2 separate regions of the Homo sapiens genome follow, and region 2 is linked to region 1. Evidence: fine-mapped expression QTL. A gene starts in region 1. The other region holds a variant in brackets. All regions are shown on one strand. Distances are between the middles of the regions. Region 1 holds the start of TESC (tescalcin). Region 2 overlaps FBXW8 (F-box and WD repeat domain containing 8).

Region 1 (5,370 bases):
GGGAAGCCGCTGCAGCTACATCTAGGAAGGTTACAGAGCAGGAACACAGCATCTGTCATCCCAGTGGGAGGCTGGACCCAGGAAACTGACAAGACTCCCAGCATGCTCTGCAGCCCCTCCTCCCTGTCAAACCCACAACCAGGTGGAATTCCCGAGTGCCCCGTGGGCTGCCGGAGAGCCCACCCTTCCAACGGGGATCCCAGCCACAGAGAATGCCCATCGACACCCATCCAGATTCAAAGCAGTGGGAGGCGAGGAGAGGGCACATGAGAAATAATAAAAGCAGAGGAGACCCAAGCAAGTAAGAGCTAGAGGAATCCCTCCTTTCTCTCTCATATTAGTCTTCGGATTGAAGTGCATAAAACTTTTTGAGTAAGTAAAATATCCAACATAGTTCAAAATGAACATATAAAAACGTTTACGGAGAAAAAGCTCACTCTCCCTTCATCCCTTCCACTCCCCCCGCAACCCCCACCAAGCATCCATTCGTACTTTCTGGTGGATTCTTCCAGTCTGCAAATATAGCAATTACAAATGTATACTCTTATTTTCCCCTCTTTTTACATTTTCTATTTCTTTTTACTTTGCGGCTCCAGCTCAAAGGATCCTTTTTTAAAAAACAGAAAAAAGGGTACCATATTATATATGCTGAGCCACACCTTTTACTTCTTTAGTTGGATATTTCTATATCTCTACACACACAGAGATACAGATATAGACGTATAAGTGCGTGCATACACACACCAGTTATTAATGGTTTTCTGCAATTTTCATCCAGTTCTCCTGGAAAGGGGTATTTAGATTGGGGGTCAAGAGGGGTTGCTTTTCAGCTGACACACAAACAGCTGGGCCACCCTCTCTTGGTGATCAATACTGGACGCTGGTTCTCTGCACTTGAAGCAGGTGCCAGGAGCTAGCTCTTTCCCAAAATATCTGCAGCTCCCATTTCCTGAGCGTCTACCAGGTACTAGGAGAACTCTTACAACAGAGAAGGAAAGCTGAGAATCAGAGAGGTAAAGTGACTAGCCCAAGGTCACACAGCCAGGAAGTGCAGCTGGCAGGGTTCACAGCCGGTCTGTCGCTCGCCAAAGCCGGTTTGCCCACACACCTGGCCCCCGCGGTCTCCAGTCCACACCCTGGTCCACAGCCAGAGGCAGAACTGGCCATGCCGAGTTCAGGACCCAGGGCCAAGTCCCCAGCCCGGCTGAACTCGGGCAGAGAAGCGCTTTCTCCGCCATTTCCCTGCGGGCAGCTCGGCCAGGCCTCCCAGGGCTCCCCGCCTCCGGGCCGATGCGGGGCGCGCAGCCTTTGCTGGTCCCGGGAGACTCAGCGAACTCAGGGGAGGACGCTGGGCTCCGGGCAAAGTGCTCTGCGGCCGCTGCCTCGCTAAGTCTCCCAGCCACCCGCGGGGATGAGGCTGCCTGAACCCATTTTACAGATGCGAGGACGAAAGCAGGCGCCGGGCGCCGGCTCTCCCGACTAAGGTCACCCGGCCGGGGAGCGTCGGAGACCTGTTCCCACCCAGGTCCGCCGACTTCAAAACTTTCCGCTCTCGCGCTCACGAATGCAAACGACTCTCAGGTGTGGGGCGCGCGCGCCAGCGGGGGTGCCTGAGGGACTTGCCCGCCCGGCCTGAGGCACCTGCCCTGCGCTTGGGAAGCCTGGGCCCCGCTCCCTCCCCGGTCCGCAGTCCCCCGGCCAGGGAGTTCCCGGGCCAGTCCGAAGCTGAGCGGCTGCGGCACTGAGCATCGCCGCGGAGCTCCTCGCCGCAGCCCGCGAGGTGGCCAGCGGGGACCCATTTGAAAGAGGAGGAGACTGAGGCGCAGAGAGGGCCCGCCACTGGCCCAAGGTCACACAGCGCGGCGGCGGGCCGGGGTCCCCAACAGTGGCCGTTCGGAGGTCCCGCCCCGGTCCCCGCGCCGCCCCCCGCGGGTACTCACAGCCGGTCTTGCCCTCGAGCTCCCGCACCTCCTCAGACGCGGAGTGGGCAGCGCCCATGGTGCCCGCGGCGGGGGCCCCGGGGCGCGCGTCCCTCTCAGGCCCCGCACTGGCTTCGGCTGCGCAGCGGCGGGACTGGCCTCGGGTCCGGCCTCGGGTCGGGACGCCGGCGAAGGCTCGGAGCCGCGGGTTCCGCGTGGGGCCGGAGCGGGGCCTCATATAACGGCGGAGGGCGGCGCGCCGCGGTCCTAGCGCACGCCGGTTTCGCGCACTGCGCGGCTAGGGGAGCGCCCCGCCCCGCCCCGGCCCGGAAACCGCCGGGAAGGGGACCCCGGAGCCCACCGCTCTGGAGTCCCCGTTCGTGCAGCAGTGCTCACGTACCTCGTCCCTTCCGCACACCTGCTGGATCTGGAAGGAAGCAGGTGTGAGCAAATTTGGGGGCGTGGGTAGGAGGGGTGGGACCCCTGGGAGGTGCTATGCCCACTCCCAACCCATCCCACCTTACATCCTCCAGATCTTAGGAGGGAAACTCCACTGAGATAGTCAAGGAAGTCAGCGAGCATGAAATAGCTCTATGGAGAACAACAGTAATAATAATCCTATTTGAAAATGCACCATGCGCTTTGGTTTTTTCCAGGAAAGCCCCAGCACCTTCTGAGGTGAACACACCCACGTGGCGGCCCGTGTGGGCCCTGCACAGCCCGGTGGCTGAGAGGCACCTCAAACTGCAGGAGCGGGCTGGGCGCATGGCTCACGCCTGTAATCCCAGCACTTTGGGAGGCCAAGGCGGGCGGATCACTTGAGCTCATGAGTTCGAGACCAGCCTGGCCAACATGGTGAAACCCCGTCTCTACTAAAAACACAAAAATTAGCCAGGCGCGGTGGCACATGCCTGTAATCCCAGCTACTCCGGAGGCTGAGGCAGGAGAATCACTTGCACCTGGGAGGCAGAGGTTGCAGTGAGCTGAGATCTTGCCACTGCACTCCAGCCTGGGCGACAGAGCAAGACTCTGTCTCAAAAAACAAACAAACAAAAAAACAACTGCAGAAGTGGGCCCAGGAGGCTGCATTTGGGACAAACTGCTGGAGAGAAGGCAATGCCGGTGGTCCCCATGCCCATTAGGGAAGTTCTGGGTTAAGATGGCTTGAGGGGTTGGCTCTCCATCCAGTTGGGGTGACTGGGGCCGATGCTGTTGCCTGTGTAATGTGATTCCTCCTCCTTAAAATAAGGATAAGTTAATGAGATGTCCACCAGAGGGCCTGGCGTGGACACAGCACATGGCCACAGAGGCTGGTGGGCGCTATGGAATCTTGTCCCCTGGAGAGGCACACAGCCAGGGCAGAACATCAAGGTCAAGGCTCTCCTGAAGGCTCTGCAGTGCTTAGTGACACCACCATCAATGACCGTCAGGTATCAGGTCTGTTCTGAACGTTAGTCTCGATGATAAATGTTGGGGAGGAAGGGGGACAGGGTAGGGGGCAGGAGTTTTTCGGTGCCCACAGAGGGGACTCGGGTGGACCTACCTCCATCAGTTTCACAGGCTGCTGGGAAGGGGGCTGCTGAGAACTGCTGTTCATTCCTGCAGACTACAGGCTCAAGCCAAGGGTCACAGCCCTTTCCAGGGGCAGGAGGTGACTTTCAGAGCCCGAGGTAGAGGGTGGGAGTTGGTCCTAAAACCTCCTAGAGCATCAGAATCAGCCCCTTCCTGGTTGCAAATCCAGCTTTTGGCCAGGTGCAGTGGCTCATGTCTGTAATCTCACCACTTTGGGAGGCTGAGACAGGAGGATTGAGCCCAGGAGTTTGAGACCAGCCTGGGCAACATAGCAAGACCCCAGCTCTACCAGCAATTAAAACTTTTTAAAAATGAGCTGGGCACAATGGTGTGCGTCTGAAGTCCCAGCTACTTGGGAGGATGAGGCAGAAGGATCGCTTGAGCTCAGGAGTTAGAGGCTGCAGTGAGCTCTGATTGCACCACTGCACTCCAGCCCAGGCAACAGAACGAGACCCTGTCTCTAAAATGGAAAATCCAGCTTCCTCTTCCACTGCCTGTCTGCACTCGTAGAGCTAAGGCAGCACCTGCAATCTGCATTTTAAAGCACTCTCCAGAGGGCAGTGCAAGACCTGATCAAGGTGGAAAGATGTTGGCTGTGGGTCATCAGCTGATCTGAGCCGGCAGGACAGCTGACCTAGGGACTGCATTTTGGTTTAAAGGATTCTGGAAACAGGCAGGCCTCTGGGATCAGGAAAGGATCCCCAATACCCCTGGGAGTTCTGAGCCGCTGAGCCAGCCCATTACGTACAGCTGCTGGGAGCAATTTTATTCCAACTTAAAATGTCAGTTCCTGGAATTTTATTATATTAAACTAGTCAAGGATTAAATGATGGAACTGTCTGATGTGGGGGATAGGAAGTGGCATTCTCTGGACATCAGCCCCTCCTGCTTGGCACAGTTGCTCTGGTGGGGACAAAAGCCCTGGGACAAGGAGAAGGGCACATGGCTTCACATTGTCCCTTGGTGATCTCAAGGAAGCCCCTGGTATCTAGTATGAAGGGAGTCTGTCCTACCCGATCACCTGTCTACCCTGACCCACTGACCGCTGTTAGCTACTAGACAAGCACTTGTACTTGTTCCTTTTGCCTGAAACTCTCTTGCACTCCCGCTTCCTCTTCAGACCTCAGTGGAAACTCACATCCTCAGGGAGGCCTTCTCAGAGTCCTCATCCCCTCTCCTGGGTCCACAGCCAAACAAGCCACCACCACCAGTCAGCAGGGAGCTGGGAGGCGGGAAGTCTTGCTGAGGATGACAGAGGAGGATTTATTCCTAATAGCAGGGCTTGGAGAAGTAATCAGGAGATCCTTGGAGCAGCACGAAGGCAGAAAAAACCAAGGCACAATTTATGCATTCGTTCAATCATTTATTCATTGCACATTTATTGAGCACCTACTATGTTCAGGGCTCTTGCTAGGTCCTGGAGCCACAGCCAGGAATAAGATGCCACCTTCGCTCCTGAAGAACTCCTGGTGGGGTGAGGAGACAGACACACGGGCAGTGACAAAGCAGATGGGTAAACAAGGGCTGACGTGATGGAGCCCACAGAGAGATGGAATGTTCAAACCAGAATGGGCCCCTGGAGAGACTCTGTCATCCCTAAAGCTGAGCTTCAGGAAGTCCAGGACTGTCCCCAACTGTGGTCCCGAAGGGATACAGCAAAGCCAAATTCTTGGTGGACAGATGTCTCTGTGGGGGCCCCTGCAGTGGCACCCACCATCTGCCCGGGCTCTGCCCTCCTCTGGCAATGATGTGCACACCGCAAGGCGCCCTCCACGCAAAGCCAGCTGCTGCCTGTTCCGGGACGTCATGGCTTTCATTCAAACCTACCAATGGCTCTGCAGGCGTCAACAAAGCAAGAAGCAAGAATGAGGTCTGCAGC
Region 2 (5,370 bases), 140 kb before region 1:
TTATTATCATACCTTTTGGTCATGGAGAATGAAGTTAATTTAAATAGATATATGGAAAATTTCATGTTTATTGAAATAATTTAGCTTATCCCCTGTTTTATAGTTTTTATTCAGTTTGGAAATAAGTGGAAGCAGTCTAATGCACATCAGTGTGTACATTCTGGGTGTTTCACTCATCATTACCATTGGAAAGTGGGCAGTGGAAATAAAGAGGTACCCCTCAAGCCAGTCAGGTTGTTACCTGCGGACACCCCCTTTCAGTCACTATTTATGATGAGCTCTGCATAAGGCACTGTGATGGAGGCTATGGCACTGCGGTAGGGCCTTCTTGAAGACTTTACAGTCAAGTTGAGGAGACGATCAATGCATAAGGACTGTATTAGTAAAAGCAGTTTCTTCAGATAAAGGGCATAGTAGTTGAGTCAGAAAGCTTCAGGCTTCAAGGAGGGGAGGGGAGGGCCTGTGTTAGACCTTGAGGGGTTGGTAGGATTGGGCTGGGTTGGTGATTCTCAATCTTGGCTGTATATTGAAAACATTGATGCCTGGTTCTATCCCCAAATGGTCAGATTTATTTGGTCTGGGAGGCTGGAATGCAGTGGCACAATCTCGGCTCACTGCAACCTCCACCTCCCAGTTCAAGCGATTCTTCTGCCTCAGCCTCCCAAGTAGGTGGGATTACAGGCACGCACCACCACACCTGGCTAATTTTTGCATTTTTAGTAGAGACGAGGTTTCACCCTGTTGGCCAGGCTGGTCTCAACCTCCTGACCTCAGGTGATCTGCCCCTGCCCTCAGCCTCCCAAAGTGCTGGGATTACAGGCATGAGCCACCGTGCCCGGCCTGTATCTGCACTTTTTAAAGCATTCCAGGCAAATTTAATGTGCAGCCCAGGCTGGACCCCACTGGGCTGGGAGGTGAGGAGGTGAGGTACTGCAGCAAGGTGGGGCAGAGAATCAGAGTTCAGAGGCAAGAGCATTTGGGATCCTCTCTGGAAGCCGGCCCGTGTGAAGGGAGAGTAGAAAATGAGGCTGGGGAGAGGGGTGGAAGTTAGTTTGTGGTGGGTTTTCAGTAGGTCTCATAATTAAAATTTCATTCAATAAGGTGTTAAGATGTAAGACTTTATAGAGGGTTCTCTGGGTATATGGCAAGCGCTGTTCTAGTCTGTCTGTTCCAGTCATTGCATGCACAGCTATGAACAAAACCCAGACCCTGAGCTCAGAAGCTTCAGGCTGGTAGGGAGATGAACAGTGAGATGATCACAGACATGCACCACTGCCATGACGGAGACGTCCAGGCTGCCGTGAAGGTAGATCGTAGTGCGGTGTAGTGTGGCATGTGAGGGAGAAAGGAAGTAAAGGAAATGGTTCCAGAAGAAAGATTCATGCAGTCAGGTGTTTTGAAGGGCTTGGCTTGTGGGGGGAGGATTGAATGGAAGAAGCTCCGAATCAGGGAGCCTGTAGTAGTCGGGTGTGAATGTGAGGTGTTGGGGGATTTGGACCAGGGTGGCTTCTCTGGGAATGAGCAGAACAGAACAAGCTTGGCACCTGAGCATCTATAGTGGTGCGGGTAGTGGGCCACAGCGGTGTTGAAGGGGCCCCTCTCCTTCTGTACCAGTGACCTGGGACTGATGATCCCATTGATAAAAATAAGGAATTCAGACACAGGCTAGCTTGGCCATGAGCTGAAGCATTTGATTTTAGACGTGTGGAGTCACAGTGTGAGTGGACCAACCTCCTCTGTGGGAGAAAGGCTTGCCCAGGAGCCCCTCAGATATGAATAGAGTGCTGTTATCTGTGGGGTTCCTGCCCTCACTCTCTTCTCTTTCTCTGAGTAAGGAGCGGGCTCAACAGTTTCTGTTTCACAGCTCACTATTGTCTGGTTCAGCAGCTAAAGTACCTTTTTCCCAAGCTTTGTTGTTTTGCTGTCATTTTGGCTCCGAACTCTTTGTGTTCAGGGAGCTGGGGGGCTGGAGCTGAGGCCACCTAAACCGTCTTTCCTCTCCACCCTCGCCTCCCCACTGTGTCCCCTGGGGGGGCACCACTGAAAACAGTGTGCAGACTGCTGGTGTGGTGTGACACATGGTTAGCAGGAAGCAGAAGGACAGAGACTGGCAAGAAGGAAATACAGTTTCCTAGTTTATGTACTTCTTTTTCTGAACGTGCCTTACTTTTCTGATCTGAATTCCCTTTATCTTTCTTTCACTTACCATCTGTGTATTTCTGAAAGACGTTGCCATCCTTCTCATCTTTCCTGAATTGGCTGGTTCCTGTCACATAGAATTTAACCTTAAGAATCTAGTCCCCCAGTCTAGACATTCAAACATGTCTCATCTGTTGTGTCTCTGTAGCTAAGCAAGTGGCCTTACTCCAGCAAATGGCCTGAGTCGTTCTCAGGGTGTCACACTGAGCCCGGTATTTTGAGGGCAGTGAGCTCCAGGGTATGTGTTCTGGTATAGGGTTCCTCATTGAGAAGGGTGAGCTGACCGCTGCTTGGAGAGCCTGGGGGCCAGTGGCCGTGCTTTGGCTGGGGTGATCTCAGGATCTGCCCTTGCTTGCACGTCGCTGGGCTTAAGGACATTCATCTTGT[G/A]TTTCTGTTTACTGGAGGATCAGTGGTCAACCCAGAGGTACAGCAGGCCAGGTTCAGAAAGCACGTCTCTCCCGTTTGGCTCTTTATCCCACATGCGCACTCTCTGGGTGCCACCCTGCAGGTAGAGAGCCAAGTTCTCCAACCAAGGAATTGGGGTGACAGAATGGCCTTTGGACTGTGCAATATATGTATTTACTGTAGATTAAGAATTTGGGTGCAGTACTACTAGTAAACAAAGCACTCCTGAATCAGAGTACTTCTCTATAAGAAATTCCACCTGAGGCCAGCTGTGGTGGCTCACACCTGTAATCCCAACACTTTTGGAGGCCGACGTGGGTGGATCACTTGAGGCCAGGAGTTCAAGACCAGCTGGGGGAAAACCCCATCTCTACTAAAAACTAAAAAAACAAACTAGCCGGACATGGTGGTGCACGCCTATAATCCCAGCTACTTGGGAGGCTGAGGCAGAAGAATTGCTTGAACCTGGGAGACGGAGGTTGCAGTGAGCCGAAATTGTGCCACTGAACTCTAGCCTGGGCAACAGAGTGAGACCCTGTCTCAAAAACAAACAAAAGAAAACAAAAACCAAGAAATTCCAGATTGGTCTTCTATAGCTACTTCACTAATGTGTCACATCATAGATTTCAGTGACTCAGTGAATCTCAGAGGTTATCTCATCAACTCGGCAAAGAAACCCTGCAGGAACTATGGCTAGGGCCTCAGGAAGACTATGAACCCCCTTAAAATCATTGGCCTATCTTTGTGATTGTGTGGTTCTATCATGAGGCCCTTAAAGGCATTTCTCACCACTTTTCCCCCCATAACACTCAGTTGCTGTACAAGTGGAGTAAAACCCTCTGCAGCAGACATAAGCAACATAGCTTAAATACCTTGGTGATGGGCAGCACCCCACTTTATCATCTGGCCATTCTGTCATCCTGGGGGCCTCAAGTCTGAGTAGGTTCGGCCTGGCCTGGCTTTGATGGAAGCAGTCATTTGTTGGAGTGGCACTAGTCATAGGAGAGAGTGAGTACTTCTATTTTCTAAGTGGGCAAAACCGGGCAGTGTCGCGCATTCAGCAAGAGCTTTTCATGAGCAGGCAGCACTGTCTGGCTGCTAAAGGCAAGATTTAATTGTTTCAGCAAATCAATTAGTCTTCAGGGACTTTAATCAGTCAAATCTGATGCATGGATGAGGTATTAGAAAGCCTGTGCCTGTGAGACCATTAGTTCTGAGTATCCCTGCAGCATCTCTCTCTGTCTTTCCTGTGAGTGAGTGTGTGCGTTTGTGGGTAAATAGTGGGGCTTATACAAATTTCTGCAAGTGATCCCTGTAGTGGGAGAGCTTGCAGGAGCAGATTGTTGTAATAGTGTAAAAGGAAAAGCAAGGAGATCTTGCTACCCATGTCTTATTATTGTTTTCTCATTTGAAATTGTCACCATTGTGCTGTGAGAATGTGAAGCGTGTTCACAGCCTTCTGTCATCTAGTTGACATTTTCTCCTGTTGGAGTCACTCATCTAAACAGTGCCTCAGCAGTGGCTCTACACCACCCGATTCTTACTTGTCTGTTGTTGTAAGGCTCTGTGCATTTTCCCCACCATAGCCCTGCTCTTCAATCTCCTTTTGGAACCAAGTGTGTCGTTCTCTTCCAGATATACATCAGGGGATGTGAGAGTGTGGGACACCCGCACCTGGGACTACGTAGCCCCCTTCCTGGAATCAGAGGACGAGGAGGATGAGCCTGGAATGCAGCCAAATGTCTCCTTTGTGAGGATAAACAGCTCGTTGGCAGTAGCAGCTTATGAGGATGGTAAGTAACCACAACCCTCCTCCCTATTAAGGAAAAAAAAAAGCTTTACAAAAATTAAGCAGCTGTGGCCGGCTCCCCCCTGTAATCCCTCCATATGTACACGTGGGCACACACACATGTTCACACACATACACTCACTCTTGCTTTTATTTGAAGAAGTTGGCCAACAACCGTCAATGCATTAGTAGGCATTGGAACACAGCACCCATTAAAACTGGTGTTTAATTCCTACTGGAACTGTCAGGCTGGGCGCTAGTGCCAGACACAAGGCTGGCCAAAGCATCTTAAGCAAATAACTTGTTTGATGTAAAATATTAAATATACTTGGCCTACTTTTCCTTTAGCCTCTGCTCAGCCCAAAGGGAATAGTGAAAAGGGGATAGACATAGGTCATCTATTGATAAATGTAGTTATAGAAAAATAAAAGTCAGTGCCTACCTTTTCCTGTCACTTAATATACCATACCAGATAATTGGTAATAATATGTTTTCTCTTTGACATTGATAGAATTCTTTTTGTACATGAACAACTATGGATTTTTGGAACTAGGTACGAATAGTCTAAAGTTAGCTTTATCTATGCAAAGAAACTCTTGACAGCGTATAACTACTAGAAATGGTCATTTCAATGGCCATGATATCCAGTATGCCCACCTGTCATGCTCCTATCCTCCGTTATGTTGTGAAGTGTTGAATCTCCACAAGCTTCATGTCCCCACTTGCCCAAAAGTTGGGACCACAGCATATTTCAGAATGTTAAGTGTTCATGTCATGGCACCACTGCAAATCTTCAGAGTCAGTGTGACATTAGCAGTTGGCTCAGAGGAACAAAACTAAAGTAGCTAATGGGGAATTTTATACCCATGTGCTGTTTAAAAATAAAAATTAGGGCTGAGATCTTACATACATACCTATATATATTTGAGACAGGGTCTCACTTTTTTGCCCTGGCTAGAGTGCAGTGGCACTATCTC

Evidence for each region. PIP is the estimated chance that this variant, and not a neighbour inherited with it, causes the effect.
Region 2: its variant is the best candidate, but not a certain one, in a credible set for the expression of TESC in monocytes (TOPMed, PIP 0.60).

The regions. Positions count from the first base shown.
Region 1 is chr12:117,097,285-117,102,654 of GRCh38, forward strand. It overlaps TESC (tescalcin), which reads right to left and starts at 2,132. Exons shown (of 8, transcript NM_017899.4): 1 at 1,941-2,132. The coding sequence starts at 1,998. It overlaps TESC-AS1 (TESC antisense RNA 1), which reads left to right and starts at 2,183. Exons shown (of 3, transcript NR_120464.1): 1 at 2,183-2,360; 2 at 3,169-3,356. RefSeq lists silencers at 1,528-1,627, 1,698-1,807, 1,868-2,387, 2,126-2,264, 3,131-3,348 and an enhancer at 5,264-5,370.
Region 2 is chr12:116,960,458-116,965,827 of GRCh38, forward strand. FBXW8 (F-box and WD repeat domain containing 8) reads left to right here. Exons shown (of 11, transcript NM_153348.3): 5 at 4,240-4,397. Among named protein-coding and RNA genes, the nearest start is that of FBXW8, 52 kb to the left of the region's middle. The variant G/A (reference allele first, on the strand shown) is at 2,587.